2 separate regions of the Homo sapiens genome follow, and region 2 is linked to region 1. Evidence: fine-mapped expression QTL. A gene starts in region 1. The other region holds a variant in brackets. All regions are shown on one strand. Distances are from middle to middle. Region 1 holds the start of MAP4 (microtubule associated protein 4). Region 2 has its middle 25 kb from the start of CSPG5.

Region 1 (12,116 bases):
CACGCCCAGCCAATAATTTTTTTTAAATTGTGTGTTTGAATTTCCCATTTTAGCCTTCACTTAATGGATGAGTTGGCTGTAAAAATCTAGCTTCAAAATAGTTTTTCTCAGTTTTAAAGGCATCACTTCATTTTTTAAAAAAAATCATTTAGTGTTACAATTAGAAATAAGCCCATCTGTTTCTTGTAAGTTGGTAAGTACTGCTGAGGGGAATTTCCCTCCCTCCCTTCTTGCCACCTTGCCGAGGCTGTATTCAAATTCCTGGGCTCAAATGATCCTCCCACCTCATCATCTTCTTTTTGCTTTTCTTTTTTCCTTCTTTTGTCCCTGTCTCTCTACTCTCTCCATTGTCTGTTCGTTTTCTTCATCTGCCTCTGTGATCATGAAAATATTCGCCATGTTATTGTTTACCGTTCACATTTAGGGCTGCCATCCACCTGGAATTACTTTTTGTATATACTGTGAGGTAGAGCTCAAAATATCCAGTTGACCCAGCACCACTTATTGAAAAGACAGTTAATTCCCCCACTATTTTGCAGTGTCACATTTGTCAGATATTAAGTATCCATATGCATGTGGTTCCGTTTCAAAACCATTTTTTTGCATTGGCCTCTTGTTTTGTTTTGTTTTGTTTTTCCATATGTTCAGCACACCAAGTACATTGGCCTCTTTCTTGGTGATTGTGCAGGTACCACAATGTTTTCATTACTATATTTATGTATTTTTAGTTTCAAACATATGACATTGCCATAGGTTAGAAACTCATCAGTTTTCAGCATTTTCACATGGTTCAATCCATCAGTAAGTTTTGATATCCAGTAGTTTAAGTTCCTCTAAGTTTGTTCTCAAAGATTATCTTAGCTGTTCTTGACTTTTTAAATTACTATGTAAAACTTAGGATCAACTTTTCAGTTTGATTTGAAAAGAAAAAACCTACTGGACTTTGCTTGGGGTTATGTTAAATCTATAGATTAGGCCGGGCGTGGTGTCTCACGCCTGTAATCCCAACACTTTAGGAGGCCAAGACAGGTGGATCACAAGGTCAGGAGTTTGAGAACAGCCTGGCCAACATGGTGAAACCCTGTCTCTACTAAAAATACAAAAATTAGCCGGATGTGGTGGCGCACGCCTGTGGTCCCAGCTATTCAGGAGGCTGAGGCAGGAGAATTGCTTGAACCTGGGAGGCGGAGGTTGCAGTGAGCCAAGATCATGTGCCACTGCACTCCAGCCTGGGCAACAGAGTGAGACTCTGTCTAAAAAAAAAAACAAAAACAAACAAAAACTATAGATTAGTTTGGGGATAGTTGATACCTTTAAAATATCATAAAACCTTAAAATAAAATAAAACCTTATAGGTTTTTCCTAAAAGCACTCCCTTAGTAAATCACTTGTACAAAAATCCGTGCCTCAGATTCTACATCTAGTAAACTGATTCTAAAACACCTTCCTAACAAGGGGGAGTGTGATGTCTTTCTATTGTTAAGTTGTATTAATCCTGTGTTGCATTTCATTTCAGTGAATTTTATCTTGAATGGATTAGGTAGATTGTTGATTAATTCAGTGACCCTCAATTGTGGGTGCCTCTCGGACTCAACTTTAATGAGATTTCTCTGTGTCATGATTACCCTTACTGCAAGAAAACCAACAACACTGAGATTTTTGGTGCAGTAGCACATGCTTCTAGTCTCAGCTACCTGGGAGGTTGAGGCTGGAGGATCGCTTGAGCCCAGGAGCTTGAAGCTGTAGTGTACAATGAGCACACCTGTGACTAGCCAATGCACTCCAGCCTGGGCAACATAGTGTGACTTGTCTCTAAAAAAAACAAAACAACAACAACAAATAATACTCATATTGCTTAACCCTGTCCCTGAACAATTCTGATCCAGCGTGTTTTTTTTGTTTTTTTAATACTTTTAATTCAGATTTTTACTTGTATTTCAGGTAAAATATTAAAAGTTATGTTACTAATAACTTGAAAGATCTCTTCAACTTTTGCTGTTCAATTTTCATTTAATAATGATATTCCCCCCCTCCTTTTTGAAAGCATCTGTAAGATATTAGGTCAAAGTAAGGCCTTTGCCACGACTACAAAATGCTTGTTAAGTACTCCCATAGAGTTTGTATCTTCTCCTTCTTGCTCAGAAAAGCTGAGCTACTCTACCCTTAGTCGTGCCTAGAACCAATACTTAGAAGAACTATGAGGGTGCTTCCAGCTGTGCAAACATCAACCCCAGCAAGAGAAGGCTGGTATGGTATGGAGCAGAGCGCACCTAGCAGGACAAATGTGCATTTAATGAGAGCCTGTGAGGTTTCAAGTTTATTATATTTAGATGTCCAGGATAAAAGGTGAGAAAGATGCTATCCTAGCCATCGAGGAACTCAAGCGTTAAGGGGAACTCTGGGTGGGACACACATTGTAAATAAACAATTACAAGGGTGGGCATGGTGGCTCACACCTGTAATCCCAACACTTTGGGAGGCTGAGGCAGGCGAATCACTTGAGGTCAGGAGTTCAAGACCAGCCTGACTAACATGGTGAAACCCTGTCTCTACTAAAAATACAAAAATCTCCGTCTCAAAAACCCCACAAAAAACAAAACAAAACAAAAATTATAGAATTGGCAGCACAAATTCCTATGTCCTCTTCTACCTTCCACTTTTCTTTATTTTCACTGATATAAAATAGAGTGAAACTTCACTTTGCTTAATGGGAGAAGTTTTTCTTTTGTTATCTATTATTTTCAAGACAGGGCCTCACTCTGTAGCCCAGGCTGGAGTGCAGTGGTGCTATCACGGCTCACTGCAGCCTTGAACTTCCTCTGCTGAAGTGATCCGTCCACCTCAGCCTCCCAAGAGCTGGGACCACAGGTGTGCAGGCTAATTTTAAAATGTTTTCTGTGGAGACGCAGTCTCAACTGTGTTGCCCAGGCTGGTCTTGTACTCTTGGGCTCAAGCAGTTTTCCTGCCTCAGCCTTCCAGAATGTTGGGATTATAGGCATGAACCACCATGCCCAGCCAAAAGAGAGTTTTTTCTTTAATAAAATAGTTCTCAAAAGCTAAGAGCTGATCAAGTATGAATATTCTTCCTTTCTTCCAATCTCCTCAGCACTAAGTCATCCTAAAGTTACATGATATGCTTATTACTTTCTGACAGATATATGAGCTGATAACTATAGAGATTTAATATTTTAATAATTATAAAGTTTTAATATTTATATGATCATATTAACATGATGGTAGTGGCTGATATCTTTCTCTCTTTCTCTCTCTGTCCCTCAGAGATGTGGTCTCACTTTCTCGCCCAGACTGGAGTACAGTGTTGTAATCATAGCTCACTGCATCCTCAAGCTCCTGGGCTCAAGGAATCCTACTGCCTCAGCCTCCTGAGAGGCTGGCACTACAGGCACACACCACCATGCCCAGCTAATTAAAAACATTTTTTTTTGTAGAGATGGTGTCTTGCCATCTTGCCCAGGCTAGTCTTGAATTCCTGGGCTCAAGTGGTCTTCCTGCTTTGGCCTCCCAGAGTTCTGGGATTACAGGTGTGAGTCACCATGCCAGGCCAGTAACTGGTCGACCATCTTGAATATTTGTTTTTGCCACATTGCATCATGTCATGCTTTTCTAAAAGCAGAGAGAGCTATTTTTATTGCTATGCCTAATAATGATAAGATGACCAGCATGGAGAGCTGGTTCGTACGGTTACTCCTTACTGGCTTTCTTTCTATAATTCCAGACAACATGCTTGCTCTTGTACAAACTGTGTTTAGAAAGTGGAAGAAAATAGGTGAATATTCTTTTTTATTTTTATTTTTTTGAGACAGAGTCTCACTCTGTCACCCAGGCTGGAGTGCAGTGACACGATCTTGGCTCACTGCAACCTCCACCTCCCAGGTTCAAGTGATTCTCCTGCCTCAGCCTCTCGAGTAGCTGGGACTACAGGTGCACACCACCACGCCCGGCTAATTTTTGTATTTTTAGTAGAGAGGGGTTTCACCTTGTTGGCCAGGATGGTCTCAATCTCTTGACCTCATAATCCACCCACCTCAGCCTCCCAAAGTGCTGAGTGCTGGGATTACAAGCATGAGCCACCACACCTAGCCAAGGTGAATATTTGTAATTGGTGATAACCTTTCAGCCTTGAATCTGTTTATTCTTTTTCTAGTTGTGAAGAGTTTTTGTAATTTTGGAACTTCTGATTAATTTCAAATTAGATTCAATTTCTAATAACTTTCATCGTGTCATTTTAGAAATGTGTTTTTAGCCCCTTGTTTTGTTGGTTTTTATCATTTTGGCCTGTCTCCTCTGTAGTCTACTAGGAACAGAGAAGGTGTGCACATCACTTTGATGTGGTCCTCTCTTCTGGGACCCAGCAGTTTACAGGAGCTGGTATATACAACTAACTACAGTGGGGGGTCCCCAACCCTCGGTCTGTAGATTGGTACCAGTCCATGGCCAGTTAGGAACTGGGCTGCACGGCAGGAGGTGAGCAGCAGGTGAACAGCATTACATTAACTTTGCGATAAGTGTGCCTGAGTTCTGCCTTCTGTCAGATCAGCAGTGGTTTTAGATTATCATAGGAGCGCAAACCCTATTGTGAACTGCACATGCGATGGATCTAGGTTGCATGCTCCTGTGAGAATCTAATGACTGATGATCGGAGGTGGAAGAGTTTCATCCCGAAACCATCTCCTCCCTCTCACCCCTCCTGCTATCTGTGGAAAAATTGTTTTCCACGAAACCTGTCCCTGGTGCCAAAAGGTTTGGGGACCACTGAACTACAGTATAGATCAGACTCTACTGTTACAAGTACAGATGATGTATTAGTTCTGAATACTACTGGGAGAAAGATTCTAAAAAGCAGTCACAGAAAAGGTGGTAAGACAATTTATGTGGACCTTGATTTCAAGACTTTCACAAATGAGGAGGGAGAGAAGATAACTTCAAGTTTGGAGAGCAAATGAGCATAGGGTGTACAGTGATAATGTAAGATGGTAGATGGTCCCATGTGACTAAATTGTAGGGAGACCCTACATGGAAAGCTGCTGATGATTATGGTGGGTGATAGGACTGAGTCTTGTCAGTCAGCCTTGATATTACACGTAAGAGTTTGGATTTACAAAAAAAAAAAAAAAGAAAAAAGAAAAAGACATCTAGGCATTGGGGTCCCTTTAAAGATCAGGTGGAATGTTTTCCTGATGTTCAGGATTCTTCCTGCCTGCCTCCCTCCTTGCAGAAGAAAAGATAGGTAGGTATAAGTAGTAGGTAGGTAAAGGTATGTATAAGCAGGTATAATTCAAAAGGTATATGAAGTACAGCGAAGTCATTGTGTTAGATAAAAGCAGAAACTACAAAACTGTAAGGTTTTGCTTATTTTGTCACGCTCTGCTTCTGTTTTTGGTGTTCTGTGGCTCTTTTCGCCGATCCTTTGTCTCAGCCTCATTTGTAAGTGACTTGTTTTTTCCATTTCTCATTTTTTTTTCCATCTATTAAAGTGAGGGGATTGGATCCTAGATCAGTTCAACTGGTGTAAGCCTTTAGAGCCAGGCATGGTGGCTCATGCCTGTAATCCCAGCACTTTGGGAGGCCAAGATGGGTGGATCACTTGAGGCCAGGAGTTTGAGACCAGTCTGGCCAACATGATGAAACCTCGTCTCTACTGAAGATACAAAAATTAGCCAGGCATGGTGGTGTGCATGCCTGCAATCGCAGCTACTCAGGAGGCTGAGTTAGGAGAATCACTTGAACCCAGGAGGCGGAGGTTGTAGTGAGCTGAGATCATGCCACTGCATTCTCCAGCCTGGGCAACAGGCCAAGACCCTGTCTCAAAAAAAAAAAAAATGCCTTTAGAATGTGGTTAGAAATAATTTTTGGATTGGTATAGATTAACTCTGAATGTTTTCCTGTGTTAGAGGAAGGAAGTGGGATAAATGTAAAGTTTAAAAAAAATGCTCCTTTTTCAAAATTTTGAGGGGTTAGGTATTAAGAATCTTTTAAAGTTTTACTCATTTAAAAAATTTAGATAAAATGGAAGATTCATTCTTAAGGTTGGTGATATCAGAAATGTAAGTGCTGTGTCATTGTCATTTCTTATTTTGGCCTACATAACCGTAACCAGACTTCAGACATCATGCTGCCTGTATCACATGGCTAACAGTGGGAGGTATCTGGTGTGTTCTTCCTGGAGAAATAGATTGAAATTCATTTGGACAGAAATGTTGAAGGCAGGTGCCTGATCCAAAATGCATTTAGTCAGGACTGAACACAAGCTGCCTGGATAGTTCCTGTAAGTAAGCAAGGTAGCCTTTTAACTTTGTGATGCAAGGTTTTATGTATGTGAGTATGTGTGTGCAAGTGTATACAGTATTTTTATATCCAGAGAACAGGGCTCCCTTAAATGGGGGGTGGGGGGGACTCTGGTAACTACATGAAAGTAAAATATAACTTCTTTAAACCTATATCAGTGTGTTCTTTCATGTAGGAATGTAGCTGTGTGATGGCCTCAGCTATTCTAGTAATCAAGGGCTCTCTGCTGTTGCTAATCCTATGATGAACAGGACAAATGGTGGTTACGAACAGAACCCTGTCAAGCCTGGAAATTCCATCAGTTTGTAATAGCACAGCTGTTGTCCTTGAACTGTGTAGGGAGGAACCTAGGGGTGGACAGTTAATATATTCTTCAGGGGGGTTGTAGTTTATTGCTCAGGATAGTCAAGATCTTCCTCAGTTGTCTGTTGCTATCTGCAAGTCTGGTTTGGAGGAGAAGCAGGAGAAATTCAGATTTGTCTGAGGAATCATATGTGTCTGTGAACTGTGTAAGTTGGTAGTTGATTCCTGTAGACATCCTTGCTAAAGATTTATTTTTAAGTAAAATATCATTTTGCTTGAAAGTATAAATCAAGGTTTTGTGGTTAAATAAATTAAAAACAGCACAGCTGCCAGACAAAGTTCAGCTTGATGTATAACAGGCCTCTGAAAGAAGTTCAGTAAGAAACAAATCTGGGTAATAAAGTTAATTAGTAACTAAAAACCTGCTAGGCATACTAAAAAAAAATCTGATGTTGAATATTAAATTATTATGAAGCAGGCTATACCTGTATCCATCAAGATTATAAATGATCTCCCACACTGGCGACGTGGGGTTCCTTTCAAGCCTGAGGAATGAGCACTATATTTTGGCCACAGCATTCTCACTAATGTCCTAGGATAGCAGCTTAGTGTTGGCTTTAGAATTCTCTGTCATTTAAATGTCATGCAAAAACAAACGTATAAAAGAAAACATTAACCCAGATATCTTTATGGTTCCTTGTCTTGTCCATAACCGCCCCCGCCCCCACCCACCCAAAAAGGACAGGCTATCAGTTATAGAGAAAATATAAGTGAGCATTATAAGCAGTATCCTACCTTTAGTAATAATTATTTAAAGTTTATTAAATGGGTTGTTTGGAACTCAAAATGATTTGCCTCAAAGTAGCCTAGGTCACTGAGAAGAAAGTTTATTTCTTTCTGCTGAAACTGACAGGAGGCGATATTTTGAAAGATAGCAAGCTTGTCTTTGGCATGGTATTAACTCCCTTTCTTTTGCCTCCTAGGGCTCCTGGGCCTGTATACCCTTTCCCTACTTTGATACCATATCTATATCTGCTTTATTCCCTGAAAGTTCCCATGTTGCCATAATATTTTTCTTCCTTTTTCACACCAGAACCAAGAACTCAGACATCTTCAATAGAACCATCTCTGGGATGAACAATGGTCTTTCCAGGGATGTACATTTTCTTACCCACTTTTAAATTAAGAAATAGGATTCTATACTTTTAAAAAGAGAATGCTGGCTACTGCAAATGAATGTCGGTAGAAATTTGGCTAATGTGACACAGTAAAATGAAGGTTTCCTAACACAGTGGTTAGGAAAAGTGAGTATGATGGTGGGAATCAGGCTTCTGTTCTTGCTTTTTTTTTTTGAGTCAGGGTTTCACTCTGTTGCCCACGCCGGAGTGCAGTGGTGCAATAGTGGCTCACTGCAGCCTCAACCTCCTGGGCTCAATCAGTCCTCCCACCTCAGCCTCCTGAGTAGCAGGGACTACAGGCATGTGCCACCATGCCTGGCTAATTTTTACATGTTTTTGTAGAGATGGGGTTTTGCCATTTTGCCCAAGCTCTGTTCTAGCTTTTCATGAGTTTTTTCCCTGCATTTTAGCTCCCATAGTAGCACCTTTCAAGGGGTGAATAGAAGAGGACAGAGACAGCAACAGGCCATTGGTAAACCAGATTGCCAATTTCTCATCAGACAGAATGAGCACAGACCCCGAGTGAGTGGCTCTAGATGCGAATGACCTAAAATTTTCAGGAGGACTTCATGGAGCTTAAAAGGTTCTTCAGAACTTCTGTGTAATTAAGTTAGATATTAACACTGTTTAATCTGTATAGACCTGTAAAATATTTTTAGTACAGTAATTAATTCCAGAGTTTGTGAACTATCCAAAGTAAAGCATACAACAAAGTACTGTGGCCTCATCATATATCCTTATTTCCTGTTTATGAGCACCTAGCTCTTAATAGTGAGATTGTAGTCAAGAGAGTATTTTATCATCATGCCATGTAGTTGCCTCTTGCCTTAGTTTACCTATTTTAAAAAACCCGGCTCACTAATAGTTTCACTTCAGGCATGTCATCAGAATGAAAGATCAGATATACAAAGTGCTGTGCTTGAAAACTGTGTGTTCCCTTAGTGCCTGGTTAGATAATACAGGGCTTATTTTCTGGCAGAGTGGTGTTGAGTCTCCTTTGATGTTAGCCAGAACTGGGTGGAGTTTCTTAAGCTCCAGTCAGATTGGCTCAAGCAGGGCACCATGCAGTGGTGAATTTGTTTTCAGTCCCTCCCTTTGCCAAAAAGCTTTTTTTTTTTTTTTTAATAAACCTCAACCCAATTATAAATGAGAATACTTGATATATGAAATAATATGAAATGATAGTTGTTCATATTCACACTGAGGGTCTTAGGGGGTTTATTTATAGCTAACTGAAATGATGCAGCTGAATTACAAGTAGCTGATAGAATAATCAACCTCAGTAAACATTTAACATAACACTCTCATTTTACAGATTAGAGAACTCAGCCCTGAAAGGTGACTCATTCAAGGCCACAGTGAGTGTCAGATTAAACTGGTGCTTCAGTAAAGCATACAGACTTCTGTACCCAGCTTTCAAATTCTCTTGACTCTTACTCACAAATCTATTTAAAGTTAACTTTATTATCTGTATGGATAGAAGAGGAATAGTATAAATGGTCAATTGGTCAGTGAGAGGTTTTTTTTTTAGAGTAAATGCTTCTCATTCACAAGGGTTCATTTTTTGATCCTCCTGAACATCCAGATTTGAAAATAATAGTGTCATATCCTTTTATCCATAAAATATGTAACTAAGCATTTAAGGCATAACCGAATAGTAAGTAACTTCAAGTGATTCTGTGTGAGATGAAATTCATACATGAATTTATTAAAATTAATTTTGGAATACTTGAACCAGTTTAACATCTATAGAGCATTTAAAGAGTGTATTGTACTTATACATGTTTCAGAATAAAATAACTATAAAATTGGATAATCGCTTTAATTTATTGAAAACTGGGGATTTCTGGGAAAAAAAAAACAACAGTACTTTAACTTGAAAGATGACACTAGCATTACCTTTCTAGGATCATTTTCCATAAGGGGGTGTGTGTGTGTATTTTAAAATCATATTCTATTTATGTGGTGACAAGTAAAGAATAGCTTAACTGTTGATGAAATACAGATGCTAAGTGGCTAGCTAGATGTGCTCATAGCTTCATGACCTTCCCACTTTCCAATTGTATAATTTTCTATCAGTTTTACCCTCTTAGGCTGAATTTCAGCTACTGTTCATATTCCATGAACCACATGCAGCCCAGGAAGTCATCTGAGAGTGTGTGGCTGGGGGCGGGGTGGGGGTGCTGAGGGTTGGATAGGGGAAAGATTACAATGGATAAAAGCTGCCCTTTGATAATCTGCATTCTGATAAATGATATTTAAAATGTATTGGTGTTTTTGACTGTATTTTTACCCTGTGCCTTAAATGAGGAAAAGATTTGAGTAGATTGCATCTTATGTCATTATGTATTTCTGGGGAAAATTAAATTTTGGATTTTTATGGTATGTTGTTAAGGATGGCACAGATGTCCTTTTAAGTTCTCTTTGACCATGAAACTGATGCAGGATTTTTGCTCCTTAGCTCAACTAGGTCCAGGTTCTTATCTCAGGAGCGGAAGAATTAGGCACGTGGACATCAAAGAGTGAGTGGAGTAGAATCTATTAATCGAAAGGAAAGCTCTTAGCAAAAAGAGAGAACATGGTAGGTGGTTCTACTACCTGAAGACAGGAAAGTTCCGTAATATGGCTGAGCCTGGGGCTCTTTATTGGTTCAGAATGGGAGTGTGTGGTCATTGGTTTGTGAGTATGCAAAAAAGGTCAAAGCGAAGACACCACTCCAAGGTGGGCAGGACAGTGTAGAAAACCAATTAGGAAAGGGTAGGTACAGGTTAAATAGGTGAAGGATGGGGATCAATCATGCCAAACGGGAAGGCAGGTTCTTAATCCGATCTCAGGATTTACCCAGGACAGTTTCCGGATTAAAGTTCGGGTTTCACTGAGGACCCGCCCCTGTCTGCCTAGACATTTGTTTGCCTCTTGCCTCTATCAAAACTAGTTACAGACGTCCTTTTTAGTTTTTGGTTCATAACAGCTCCCAAAGGATAACTACTAATAATAGTTGTCAGAGATAGAATAGGGAAATGGCATAACCGAATAGTAAAAGCAACTGAATAGTTGCTTTTCATGGAACCCTTTGACATTATAATCTGTTAGGCTTTTAAAAGCTCTTTAATGAACTCATTTCTCAGCATTTTCCCTGTCATGATCTGGAGTTACAATAATACTTTATATGTAAAGTAGGCTGGACGAGCATAGAATAGGGCTTCCCACCCACATTCGTCTGTTGTAAATGGGTCACAGGTGTGCCACTACTACTATAGGAACTTTTTTTTTTTTTTTTGAGACGGAGTCTTGCTCTGTTACGTAGGCTGGAGTGCAGTGGCGTGATCTTGGCTCACTGCAGCCTCCACCTCCTGGGTTCAAGCAATTTTCCTGCCTCAGCCTCCTGAGTAGCTGGGATTACAGGTGCATACCATCTAAATAATAAAAATCAGTGCCCAGCTAGTTATTCTGTTTTTGTATTTTTAGTAGAGATAGGGTTTTACTGTGTTGGCCAGGCTGGTCTCAATCTCCTGGCTTCAAGTGATCCACCCGCCTTGGCCTCCCAAAGTGCTGGGAGATTACAGGCTGGGATTACCAAGTCCAGTTCCTACTATAGGAACCATTGAATTCCTATTTATGGTTCCTTCAGAAAAGCTGCTAAATCCTGAATTCGGCAGTGGTTATTCAAATAGTGGAATTTATAATTCCAGTAGTGTGAGATGGCATTTGCTGTGGACAACAGCTCTGTCATGCCACAGGAGCCCCTTTGGCAGCAAAGCTATCAGTTTTTGTCACGAGCCCCACACTACTTGTTTTAGTCAGGATTCTCTTAGAGGGACAGAACTAATAGGATATATCTCCAAAGGAGAGTTTATTAAGTATTGATTTACGTGATCACAAGGTCCCACAGTAGGCTGTCTGCAAGCTGAGAAGCAAGGAGAGCCAATCCGAGTCCCCAAAATGAAGAACTTGGAGTCCGATGTTCGAGGGCAGGAAGCATCCAGCACGGGAGAAAGATATAGGCTGGGAGGCTAGGCCCATCTCTTCATGTTTTTCTTCCTGCTCTATATTCGCTGGTGGCTGATTAGATGGTGCCCACCCAGTTAAGGGTGGGTCTGCCTTCCCCAGCCCACTGACTCAAATGTTAATCTCCTTTGGCAACACCCTCACAGATACACCCAGGATCAATATTGCATCCTTCAGTCCAATCAAGTTGACAGTATTAACATTACAAGTCCACTCCTTGTCAACTTGAACCCATATACATCTGAGATCGTATGTAATCTTAAAATAAAGACAATAATAAGGTCATAATTACACCTAATGTAATAAAACTATCCTTCATAC
Region 2 (12,116 bases), 460 kb after region 1:
AAAAAAAAAAAAAAGATTTCAGAAAGCGGCCGGGTGCAGTGGCCCACGCCTGTAATCCCAGCACTTTGGGAAGCCAAGGTGGGAGGATCACCTGAGGTCAGGAGTTCGAGACCAGCCTGGTCAACGTGATGAAACTCCGTCTCTATTAAAAATGCAAAAATTAGCTGAGCATGGTGGCGGGCACCTGAAATCCCAGCTACTCGAGAAGCTGAGGTAGGAGAATTGTTTGAACTCGGGACGAAGGTTGCAGTTAGCCGAGATCGCACCACTGCACTTCAGTCTGGGCGACAGAGCAAGACTCCGTCTCAAAAAAAAAAAAAAAAAAAAAATATATATATATATATATGTACACACACACACATATATATACATTTTATACATATACATATATATACACACATATATATATTTTTCTGAAAGGCTTCAAAGAGAGGAGGTTTAAATTGCACTTTGAAGGATAAGGAGGCATTTTTCAGGATAAAATAGGAGATGAGGGCATTAAAGGCAAAGGTAGAATACTCAGGAAAGTAGTCTATATGATGAGTATATGACGAGGCTGAAAAGGGCAATTTAGGACAGATTACAAACAGCCTTGAATGCCATTTAAGCACAGAGCTGAAGGATGGTCAGATTTGTTTTGTGTAAAGACAACTCTGGAGACAGTGGGTAAGGCAGATTGAGGATGGGGGTTGTAGAATGGGGATAGATTAGAGAGTGAAGATTTCAAATAGCCAGACTTACCAACAACTGGAGGAGTTTTCTTGAACATTTTGCCTGTGTTCAATCTGTGATCATTCCAATAACTGGAATCCCTGTGTGTTTCTGTCACCTAATTTCTGCTGGTTCTCCCTGATGTGTGTTCACATGTGCCTCATTTTTTACTTTGTGCTAGACATCGTATTTGAAAACCTGTTTATTAAAGTATTTTGAAGCCTAGGACGATTTCTCCCTCCAGAGAGGAATTTTATTTGCTTCTGTCAGGTACCCAGGAGCTCTAGAATTCTGGGGTCACAGTAATCCAGATTCAAGGTTGGAGATTTTCTAAGCCACTGAAACCAACCCACAGACCTGTCAGACTATGCAAGGGCTGGTTTGCTTCTGGTTTATCCTTAACCCTAGGGTATAATCCTCTCAGGTCACACCTCAAAACAGGCAGTGGTTTACCAGTATCCCACCTTTGGTAGGCCCCGTACTCCAGCTTCCCCTGCCCAGCTCTACAAAACTTTCAGAAACACAACCCATTCTCTCCATCACCTCTGCTAAATGGGCAGTTGCCTCCAGGTCCAAGTGGCCCAAACGCTGGGCTCACCTGTCTGGATTCGTGTCCTCTCTGGGATGTTAGCCTAGTAATTCTTTAGTATCTTGTTAGCTTTTTGATGCTTTTCAAATGTTTTGGCTCCTAGTGCAAGAGTTGGTACAATTTACCTAGCCTCCCATTTACTAACAACAGAAGTCCTCTGTTTTCATCTTGGGCCTTTTACCCAGATGGTGTTTAGCTGGCGCCATGAGCTCAGGCTGCTCTTTGCTGTGGCATAGGGCTGCATACTGGGACGTGTGTCATGGGTTCCTAACCATATCTCTTACCCACTTTGGACAGCTCGTTGGTTCTGCTTAGGACTTCCTGGACTCTGTTAACTTTCATGGTTAAGTACCTTTGGATCCTTTCATAAGAAGGCCCAATCAAGAGGGACTGGATATAAAAGTACTTTGTAGGCCAGGCGTGGTGGCTCATGCCTGTAATCCCAGCACTTTGGGAGGCCAAGGCGGGCGGATCACCTGAAGTCAGGAGTTCAAGACCAGCCTGGCCAACATGGTGAAACTCCGTCTCTACGAAGAAAAAATACAAAATTAGCCAAGCATTGTGGCAGACGCCTGTAATCCGAGCTACTCGGGAGGCTGAGGCAGGAGAATCACTTAAACCCAGGAGGTGGAGGTTACAGTGAGCCGAGATCACCCCATTGCACTCCAGCCTGGGCTATAAGAGCGAAACTCTGTCTCAAAAAAAAAAAAAAAAAAGCACTCGGGAGGCTGAGACAGGAGAATTGCTTGAACCCGGGAGGCAGAGGTTGCAGTGAGCTGAGATTGCGCCACTGCACTCCAGCCTGGGCGACAGAGCGAGACTCCGTCTCCAAAAAACAAAAAACAGTGCTTTGTAAATACTAGATCCCAACCAGACATAAGGGTTTCTTAGTGTTGTGCTCTGTTTTGTTTCTGCCACAAGAGTGTTATGAAATATGTGTCAAAGCCCTTGGCTCTGTCTCACCTACCCAGCACAATGCAGGAGGGATAGGAACGCCCAGATCAGAAGGGGAGCAGGAGGTGGTGTAGGCCTGTGGAATAGAGTTACTGGATGTTGCCAAGAGTCTTTGATCCAAAGAAGGGGCTGAAGTGTTAGAACAGGGTATATTGATTTCCATCTGTGCCTGTCCTATTTCCTGCCGGAGTGTTTGTGCTTCTTGATGATTGTGATCCACAGGCCTGGCAAGAGTCCTCTGGAGACCTTGTCCTTTCTCAGATAATTTATCCTGGTGAAAAGTCTCATCTGTGCTCCAGAAAGCAGCACTAAACACTGAACTTGGAGCTAGAAGTTCTCTCTGTTTAGGAGCCATGTGCTTTCTGAACCTAAGGCTTTTCATCTATAGAATCTTTGCCTTTTTCTAGGACTAGCTAGGCATCAGGGATATAGCAATGAAGAAAACAGACCAAAAACTTTGCCTTATGAAGTGTATTTCTCAGTGTCATGAAATTCATTCAGGGTTTTCCAGGCCCAAGGGAAAGGGTGGGTACCAGCAGGGGAATAGGGGCAGCTTCACTGGTCCAGGAGCAGGGAGTGTGGGAATACCACCCTTGCTGGGTGCTACAGCAGAAGCTCTTTCCTCAGCCCAAGAGTTCATTGCAGGCATACAACCAGCTATGGGGAAAGAGTGAGGAACTCCTCTAAAGCAAGCTTGGAAATAATACTGTCTTCTGAGTGTATAACCATGAGATGACACAAAGTACATGGGAACAAGATTGCAGAGTTACCCTAAGGACTCAGATGGCCAGCCAGACTAAGTAACACTCTGGCCAATGGTTTATCAAAACCAGAAGAAGAATGTGACGATCAGAGGCATTCACCTCCTGGTACCCATGTGCATGCAATTCTGGAGCACATACCTAGGAGCAGAATTGCTAGAGTGGAATTTAACTTATCTTCACCTTTACAAGATCATAGTTAAAAGTGGTTGTATCAGGCTGGGCATGGTGGTTCATGCCTGTAATCCCAGCACTTTGGGAGACCAAGCCAGGAGGAGCATTTGAGGTCAAGAGTTCGAAACCAGCCTGGCCAACATGGTGAAACCCCTGTCTCTACTAAAAATAGAAAAATTAGCTGGGCATGGAGGCACACATCTATAATCCCAGCTACTTGGGAGGCTGAGGCAGAAGAATCTCTTGAACCCAGGAGACGGAGGTTGCAGTGAGCTGAAGTCACGCCACTGCACTCCAGCCTGTGTGACTCTGTCTCAAAAAAAAAAAAAAAAAAGTGGTTGTATCAGTGAATGACTTCCACCAACAGTGGATGAGCTGCCTTTGCTCCACATCCATAGCAGTGCTTGATAGTTTTATACTTTGTCAATTTTAGCGATTCTTGTTGGCTAAAATGTAGTGGCAAGTAATAGTGATTTTAATTCGCATTCTCTAATTATTAATGAGATTGCACAGCTTTTTTTTTTTCGAGACAGGGTGTTGCTCTGTTGCACAGGCTAGAGTGCAGTGGTGCAATCATGGCTCACTGCAACCTCAACCTCCTGAGGCCAGGCTTTTCCCACCTTAGCCTCTCAAGTAGCTGGGACTATAGGTATGTGCCACCACACTTGGCTAATTTTCTAATTTTTTGTAGAGATGGGGGTCTCCCTATGTTGCTCAAGTTGGTCTCAAACTCCTGGGCTCAAGTGATCCTCCCGCCTCAGCCTCCCAATGTGCTGGGATTACAGGTGTGAGCTACTGCACCCGGGTTGCACAGCTTTTAATATGTTTATTAGCAATCTGGATTTCTGCTTTTGTGAAGTACTTTCTTAACTCTTGAGTCCATTTTTCTTTTAGGTTATCTTCTTCTTAATGATTCAAGGGCATTCTTTAAATATCTTGTTTATGAGCCCCTTTATTCTTTATATGTGTTGCAAATTTTTTTCCTATTTATGACTCCTAATTTCACACTATTAGGTTAATATTAAAGCTAGTTTTTATGTAGTCAAATTTATCCATCTTCCTTTATGGTTATAAAATCATTCCTGAAGCATTGTTTCCACCTGAAAGTCACATGAGAATGTCACTCATACCCTAATAGCAAGAAAAAAGTCAGAAAACCTACACAATCACAACTTCTTGAGCCCATTAAAGTGTTGAGGTCACGAGGCAACCAGATACATTGAATTCCAAAGGATGACAAGCCCCTCTAAGCCAGAGAGGACACAGGGGCTGCTTTATCCAAGGCAGGAGCCAGGAGGAAGACGCAACACCACAAAAGCAGGAAGAAAGACAGTTAGGATGCGAGCACATGTGTGAAGGTGGAGTGTGAAGAGTAGAACAGTCAGAATCCCTGTAGCTCCAGATACGAGAGTGCAGCCATGCACAGCCTCTTCCACAAGCCTGTTTGGTGCTCACAGGAAAAACTGGGTGGGACCAGCCTGGTCAACAGTGTGAGACCCCATCTCTATTAAAAATTAAAAAATTAGCCAGGGATGGCGTGTGCCTGTGGTCTCAGCTACTCAGGAGGCTGACGCGGGAGGATCACTTCATCCCAGGAAGTCAAGGCTGCAGTGAGCCATGATTGCACCACTGCACTCCAGCCTGGGTGACAGCAAGCCCCCCTCTCAAAAGAAAAATAAATACAAAAAACAAAAAGAAAAAAACTGGGTAATGGGTCTGAGACTTGAGAACACCAGTCAGAGGTGCACAGGAAGAAAACCCCACTCATTTTCCAGACTCTTCTAGCAATCCAAGCAAAAGCCTTAAGCTGCCGAAGGAGGGACAAGAAACCCTCCTGAAAAAATCAACGGCCTCTGGAAGGGGTGCAGCAAAACCCTCTCCCCACTACAAGCCTGGCCACAAATAACTGTTGGGGGATGGGCAGGAACCTCTCCTGCCATCAGTTCCAAGCAAAGGTACTGTCACAGAGGCAGGGGTCAAAGCAAAGACATATCCACCTGGTGGAGGTGGGGAAAACCTTCCTGGGCCCAGAACCCTGCCCTGACACAAAGCAGAAGCCGGCCACCACTGAGGGAGGGGCGGAAAACTCTCCCACCCAGCCCTCCACGGATACAAGCCAGAGTTTGGCTGCCAAGGAAGGGAAGGGCAAGAAAGCCAAGAAAGCCCTGCCGGGCACAGTGGCTCACACCTGTAATCCCAGCACTTTGGGAGGCCGAGGCGGGTGGATCACTTGAGCCCAGGAGTTTGAGACCAGCTTGACCAACATGGTGAAACCCCGTCTCTACTGAAAATACAAAAATTAGCCAGGTGTGGTGGCGTGTACCTGTAATCCCAGCTGCTCTGGAGGCTGAAGCAGGAGAATCACTTGAACCCAAGAGGCGGGGATTGAAGTGAGCTGAGATCATGCCATTGCATTCCAGCCTGGGCGACAGAGCAAGACTCTGTCTCCAAAAAAAAAAAAAAAAAAAAAGGCCAGGCATTGTGGCTCATGCCTGTAATCCCAGCACTTTGGTAAGCCAAAGCAGGTGGATCACCTGAGGTCAGGAGTTCAAGACCAGCCTGACCAACATGATGAATCTCCATCTCTACTAAAAATACAAAAATTAGCTGGGCACAGTGGTGCGTGCCTGTAGTCACAGCTACTCGGGAGGCTGAGGCAGGAGAATCGCTTGAACCCGGGAGGCAGAGATTGCGGTGAACCGAGATCACATCACTGCACTCCAGCCTGGGTGACAGAGCAAGACTCTGTCTCAAAAAAAAAAAAAGAAAAAGAAAAAAAGGTAAGAGAGTCCCACCCTGAGA[G/A]TCAGGAGCACAACATCTGCCTAAGCCTGAAGCTGGACCAGGAAAACTGAAAAGCTGCTCCCACCGCAGGACTGGCCCTGATTAACATGCAGCGACAGTTTACAGCTGGACGAGTGGGAAAAGCATAAAGAGAAGGCCTCTTTCTCTGACGTGCAGGCATACAGGGCCTGCCGAAAGTGTAGGCAGAGCAGAAACACTGAGCAGAACGCTCCAGCACCTCAGGCCTCACGCTAATCAAAAGGTAGAAGTAGCCTACCAGTGGAGGCATTTGTTTTTTCTTTTTTAGAGACAGGGTCTTGCTCTGTTGCCTAGGCTGGAATGCAGTGGCGCGATCATAGCTCACTGCAGCCTCAATTTCAATTTCCTGGGCTCAAGGGATCCTCTCGCCTCAGCCTCTATGATTAGCTGGGACCACAGGTGTCTCCCACCATGCTTGGCTAATTTATTTTTTATTTTTTTAGAGACAGAGTCTTGCTATGTTTTCCAGACTGGTCTTGAACTCCTGGGCCCAAATGATCCTCTCACCTCAGCCTCCCAAAGTGCTGGGATTACAGGTGTGAGCCACCACACCTGGCATGTTTGGAGGAATTATAGGAACAACAAAATTCAAACCCAGCTCTGCTATTTAGTACCAGCTGGACCAACTCAATCCCTTACACTGAAAGCAAAACAGAAGAAAGAGACATATCCATCTATCGGCCAGGTGTGGTGGCTCACGCTTATAATCCCAGCACTTTTGGAGGCTGAGGCAGGTGGATCACCTGAAGTTAGGAGTTTGAGACCAGCCTGGCCAAGATGGCGAAACCCCGTCTCTACTAAAAATACAAAAATTAGCTGGGCGAGGTGGCATGTGCCTGTAGTCCCAGCTGCTCAGGAGGCTGAGGCAAGAAAGTTGCTTGAACCCGGGAGGCAGAGGCTGCAGTGAGCTGAGATCGCACCACTGCACTCCAGCCTGGGTGACAGAGTGAGACTCCATCTTAAAAAAAAGAGAGAGACACATCCGTCTCTGGGCATATATACTATTTAACTAGGCCTCTATTGGTTTTTTTTTTTTTAAAAGAAAGAACTTATCAAGTGATAAAGGAGACAAAACAATCAGAGCCAGAGATGAGCCAGATGATGGGACTATCACACAGAGACTAATTAATATGTTTAAAGATCTAGTGGAAAAGGTGAACGAAACACATAAAAGATGGGGAACTTGAGCAGAGGCAGAAACTACAAAAAGGAGTCATGAAAACGCTAGAAATAGACAACAACAAAAAGACCACCACAAAATCGGAGATGAAGAATTCCTTCAACTATATTAATAACGGACAAAATAGATTTCAGAGGCCGAGTGTGGTGATTCACGCCTGTAATTCCAGAACTTTGGGAGGCCAAGGTGAGAGGATTGCTTGAGCCTAGGAGTTTGAGACTAGCCTGGGCAACACAGTGAGACCTCATCTCTATTAAATATTTTTAAAAATTAGCTGAGTGTGGTGGCACGCACCTGTGGTCCCAGCTCCTTGTGGGGCTGAGGTGAGAGGATCACTTGAGCCCAGGAGAAAGAGGCTGCAGTGAGCCATGATCATGCCTTTGCACTCCAGCCTCAACAACAGGGCGAGACCCCCTCTCAAAAATAGCAACAACAACAACAGCAACAGCAAAATGGACTTCAGAACAAGGGACAAAGAGGGACATTATGCAGTGATAAAAAGATCAGTCCATCAAGAAGACAATTCTAAAAGTATATGCACCTGACAGCTTCAAAATATATAAAGTGAAAACTGATGAAAATGAAAGGAGAAATAGCTAAACTAAGGCCAGGCGCGGTGGCTCACGCCTGTAATCCCAGCACTTTGGGAGGCTGAGGCGGGTGGATCACGAGGTCAGGAGATCGAGACCACCCTGGCTAAAACAGTGAAAACCCCGTCTCTACTAAAAAATACAAAAAAAAATTAGCTGGGCATGGTGGCACGTGCCTGTAGTCCCAGCTACCCGGGAGGCTGAGGCAGGAGAATGGTGTGAACCCGGGAGGTGGAGCTTGCAGTGAGCCGAGATCACACCACTGCACTCCAGCCTGGGAGACAGAGCGAGACTCCGTCTCAAAAAAAAAAGAAAATAGCTAAACTACAGTTACAATTGGAGTCTTCAACACCCTCCCTCAGTACATGGCAACCAAAAATCAATAAAGATATAGAAGACATAATTAAGACAATCAAATATGATCTAATCAATATTTGTAGAACACTCTTTCCTACAGCAGCACAATACATACTATTTTCAAGAGCACAAAGAACATTACTCAAGACAGATGATATTCTGGACCATAAAATAATTCCTCAAAAATTTAAATGAGCCAGGTGTGGTAGCACATTTCTGTTGTCCTAGCTATTCAGGAGGCTGAGGGAGGAGGATCACTGGAGCCCAGGAGTTCAAGGCTATAGCGAGCTGTTATCATGCCATTGCACTCTAGCCTGGGGTAGCAGAGGGAGACCCTGTCTCTTAAACTGTGTGTATATATGTAAATGTATTTAAATCATACAAAGCATGCTCTCTGACTATAATAGAAGTAAACTAGAAATCAATGACAAAGATATCTGGAAACTTTCACCTCAAAGCATTTGGAAATTAAATAACACATTTAGACCTATAGTTCAAACACTCAGTAATTCCTAAAGAAGAATAAGAAAATATTTCAAACTGAATGAAAATAAAAACACAACAGGCCAAGTGCAGTAGTTCACACCTGTAATCCCAGCCCTTTGAGAGGGTGTGGCAGGCAGATCATTTGAGCCTAGAAGTTTGAGACCAGCCTGGGAAACAAGGCGAAATGTCATCTCTACAAAAAAATACAAAAATTATGTGGGTGTAGTGGCACATACCTATAGTCCCAGCTACTGGTGGGAGACGGGGACAGGGTGGTTGGGGGTAGTATCCTGAGGTGGGAGGATCACTTGAGCACAGGAGGTCGAGGCTACAGTGACCTGAGATCACTCCACTGCACTCTAGCCTGGGAGACAGAGAGAGACTTTGTCTTAAAAAAGAAAAAAACAAAAAAAGACAACCTGGTATTTCAAATGAGCAAAAGATCTGAACAAAAAAGTCACCATAGAAGTTATTCCCTACCTTGGCCAACATGGTGAAACCCTGTCACTACTAAAAATACAAAAATTAGCTGGGTGCACACCTATAATCCCAGCTACTCAGGAGGCTGAGGCAGGAGAATCAATTGAACCCGGGAGGCAGAGGTTGCAGTGAGCCAAGATTGTGCCACTGCACTCCAGCCTGGTAACAGAGTGAGACCCTGTAAAAAAAAAAAAAAAAAAAAAAAAGGTATTCCCAGCACTTTGGGAGACCAAAGCAGGCAGATAGCTTGAGCTCAGGAGTTCAAGACCAGCCTGAGCAACATGGCAAAACCCCATCTCTACAAAAAATACAAAAATTCGCTGGGCGTAGTTGTGCGCACCTGTAGTCTGAGGTACTAGGGAGGTTGAGGTGGGAGTATTGCTTGAGCCACGGAGGTTGAGGCCGCAGTGAAGCTATTTTGTGCCACTGCACTCCATCCTTGGCAACAGAGCAAGACCCGGATGATGAAGAAGAAGAAGGAGAAGGGAAGGAGAAGGAGAAGGAGAAGAAGAAGAAGAAGAAGAAGAAGAAGGAGAAGGAGAAGGAGAAGGAGAAGGAGAAGGAGAAGGAGAAGGAGAAGGAGAAGGAGAAGGAGAAGGGAAGGAGAAGGAGAAGGAGGAGAAGGAGAAGGAGAAGGAGAAGGAGAAGGAGAAGGTGAAGGAGAGGAAGAGGAAGAGGAAGAGGGGGAGGTGGGAGGGGGAGGAGGAGGAAGGGGAAGGGGAAGAAGTTGTTATTTGGATAGCAAATAAGCACATGAAAAGATGCACAATATCATTAGTATTTAGGGAAATACAAATAAAAACTACAGTAAGATACCACTACTTACCCACTAGAATTGCTCAAATTAAAAAGGCTAAATAGCCCGGGCACAGTGGCTCACGCCTGTAATCTCAGCACTTTGGGAGGCTGAAGCGGGCAGATCACCTGAGGTCAGGAGTTTGAGACCAGCCTGGCTAACGAGGTGAAACCCCATTTCTACTAAAAATACAAAAGATTAGCCAGGCATGGTGGCATGCGCCTGTAATCCCAGCTACTCAGGAGACTGAGGCAGGAGAATCGCTTGAACCTGGGAGGTGGAGGTTGCAGTAAGCCAAGATCGCATCATTGCACTCCAGGCTGGGCAACAAGAGCGAAACTCCATCTCAAAAAAAAAAAAAATTGCTGAAGATAAGTGCTGAAGAGGACTGGAGGAGCCACTGGAACATGGCTTAGAAAGCAAGTTGGTATAGCCACCCTGGAAAACAATTTGGCAGTTTCTTATAAAGGTAAACATGTACAGAACCCAGTAATTGCATTTCTAAATATTTAGTCAACAGAAATAAAACATGTCCTTACAAAGACCTGCATATGTATGGGGCTAGCAGCTTTAAAATAACTGAAACCAAAAAATAACCCAAAGTATGCCAACTGTGGGTGGATAAACTGTGGTACAGCCATACAGTGGAATACTATTTAACAACAAAAAAAAGTATGAGCTACATCAAATGGGTGAATCTCAAAAACCTTAAGCTGAGCAGAGGCAGCCAGACTCAAAAGGCCACATACCATACAATTTGGGGTTTCTTGTTTGGTTTGGTTTGGTTTTGAGACACAGTCTCAAAAAAAGATATCATGGATATCTCAGCTCACTGCAACCTCCACCTCCCAGGTTCAAGCGATCCTCCTGCCTCAGCCTCCCAAGTAGCTGGGATTACAGGCACCCACCACCACGTCAAGCTAATTTTTGTATTTTTAGTAGAGATGAGGTTTCACCATGTTAGCCAGGCTGGTCTCGAACTCCTGACCTCAGGTGATCCGCCCACCTCAGCCTCCCAAAGTGCTGGGATTACAGGCATGAGCCACTGAGCCCGGCTGATTTGGTTTTTTTTTTTAATTTAATTTTTATTTTTTTACAGGTAGGATCACACTCTGTCACCCAGGGTGGACTGCAGTGACACACAAATAACACTGTAAGCTGGAACTCCTGGTCTTAAGCCATCCTCCTGCCTCAGCCTCCCAAAGTGGTGGGATTACAGGTGTGAGCCACTGCTACCAGCCAACTTTTTAGTTTTTAATTTTTTAGTTATATATTGCTTTTCATATTGAAACATACATACTGCTTTTTGTAAAGAAGCTCAATTATTTTTTAGTATTGATTTGGTATTCAGCAAACTTTGCTAAATACCCTTATAATAATTCATCCATACATTCTTTTGGATTTTCTTTTCTTCTTCTTTTTTTTTTGAGACAGGGTCTTGCTCTTTTGCTCAGGCTGGAGTGCAGTGGTGCAATCACAGCTCACTGCAGCCTTGATCTCCTGGGCTCAAGCGATTCTCTCACCCTAGCCTCCTGAGTAGGTGGAACTACAGATGCCCACCACCATGCCCAGCTACATTTTTTGGTTTTTAGTAGAGACAAGGTCTTGCTATGTTATCAGGCTGATCTCGAACTGCTGAGTTCAAGCAATCCTCCCTCCTCTGCTTCCCACAGTGCACTGGGATTTTCTATGTATAAAATCATGTAATCTCCATATAATAATAGCTTTGTTTCTTCCTTTACAATCCTTACACGTTTTAATTCTCTTTCTTGGATATCACACTAGCCAGGACCTTTCAGTACCTTAAGAATACATAATGGTGAGAGCAGACATCCTCATATCATTGCCAATCTCAAAGAGAAAAAATGCCTTCAACATTTCATCATTAAGACTGCCTGCTGTAAGCTTTTTTTGCAGCTACCCTTTATCACATTAAAGTTCTCTTCTATTCATAGTTTTGAAGAGTTTTAATTTTAATGGATGTTAAATTATATCAAAAGCTTTTCCACATCTATTAGGCTAATCATGTAATTTTCCTAACTTATTTGCTTAATACAGAAAATTACATTGATTTTTCAAATGTTAAACCAATCTTGTAATTTTGGAATAAACCTAACTTGGTCAGATGCATTAACCTTTCAAATTATTATTAGATCAAATTTGCCAAAGTGTATTTTTAGTCTTTGCATATATGTTAATGAGTTAGATTGGCCTATAA

What was found.
Region 2: its variant is fine-mapped to the expression of MAP4 in whole blood (TOPMed, PIP 0.97).

The regions. Positions count from the first base shown.
Region 1 is chr3:48,010,504-48,022,619 of GRCh38, reverse strand. MAP4 (microtubule associated protein 4) reads left to right here and starts at 6,204. Exons shown (of 21, transcript NM_001385682.1): 1 at 6,204-6,286.
Region 2 is chr3:47,547,597-47,559,712 of GRCh38, reverse strand. No RefSeq gene overlaps it. Among named protein-coding and RNA genes, the nearest start is that of CSPG5, 25 kb to the left of the region's middle. The variant G/A (reference allele first, on the strand shown) is at 5,992.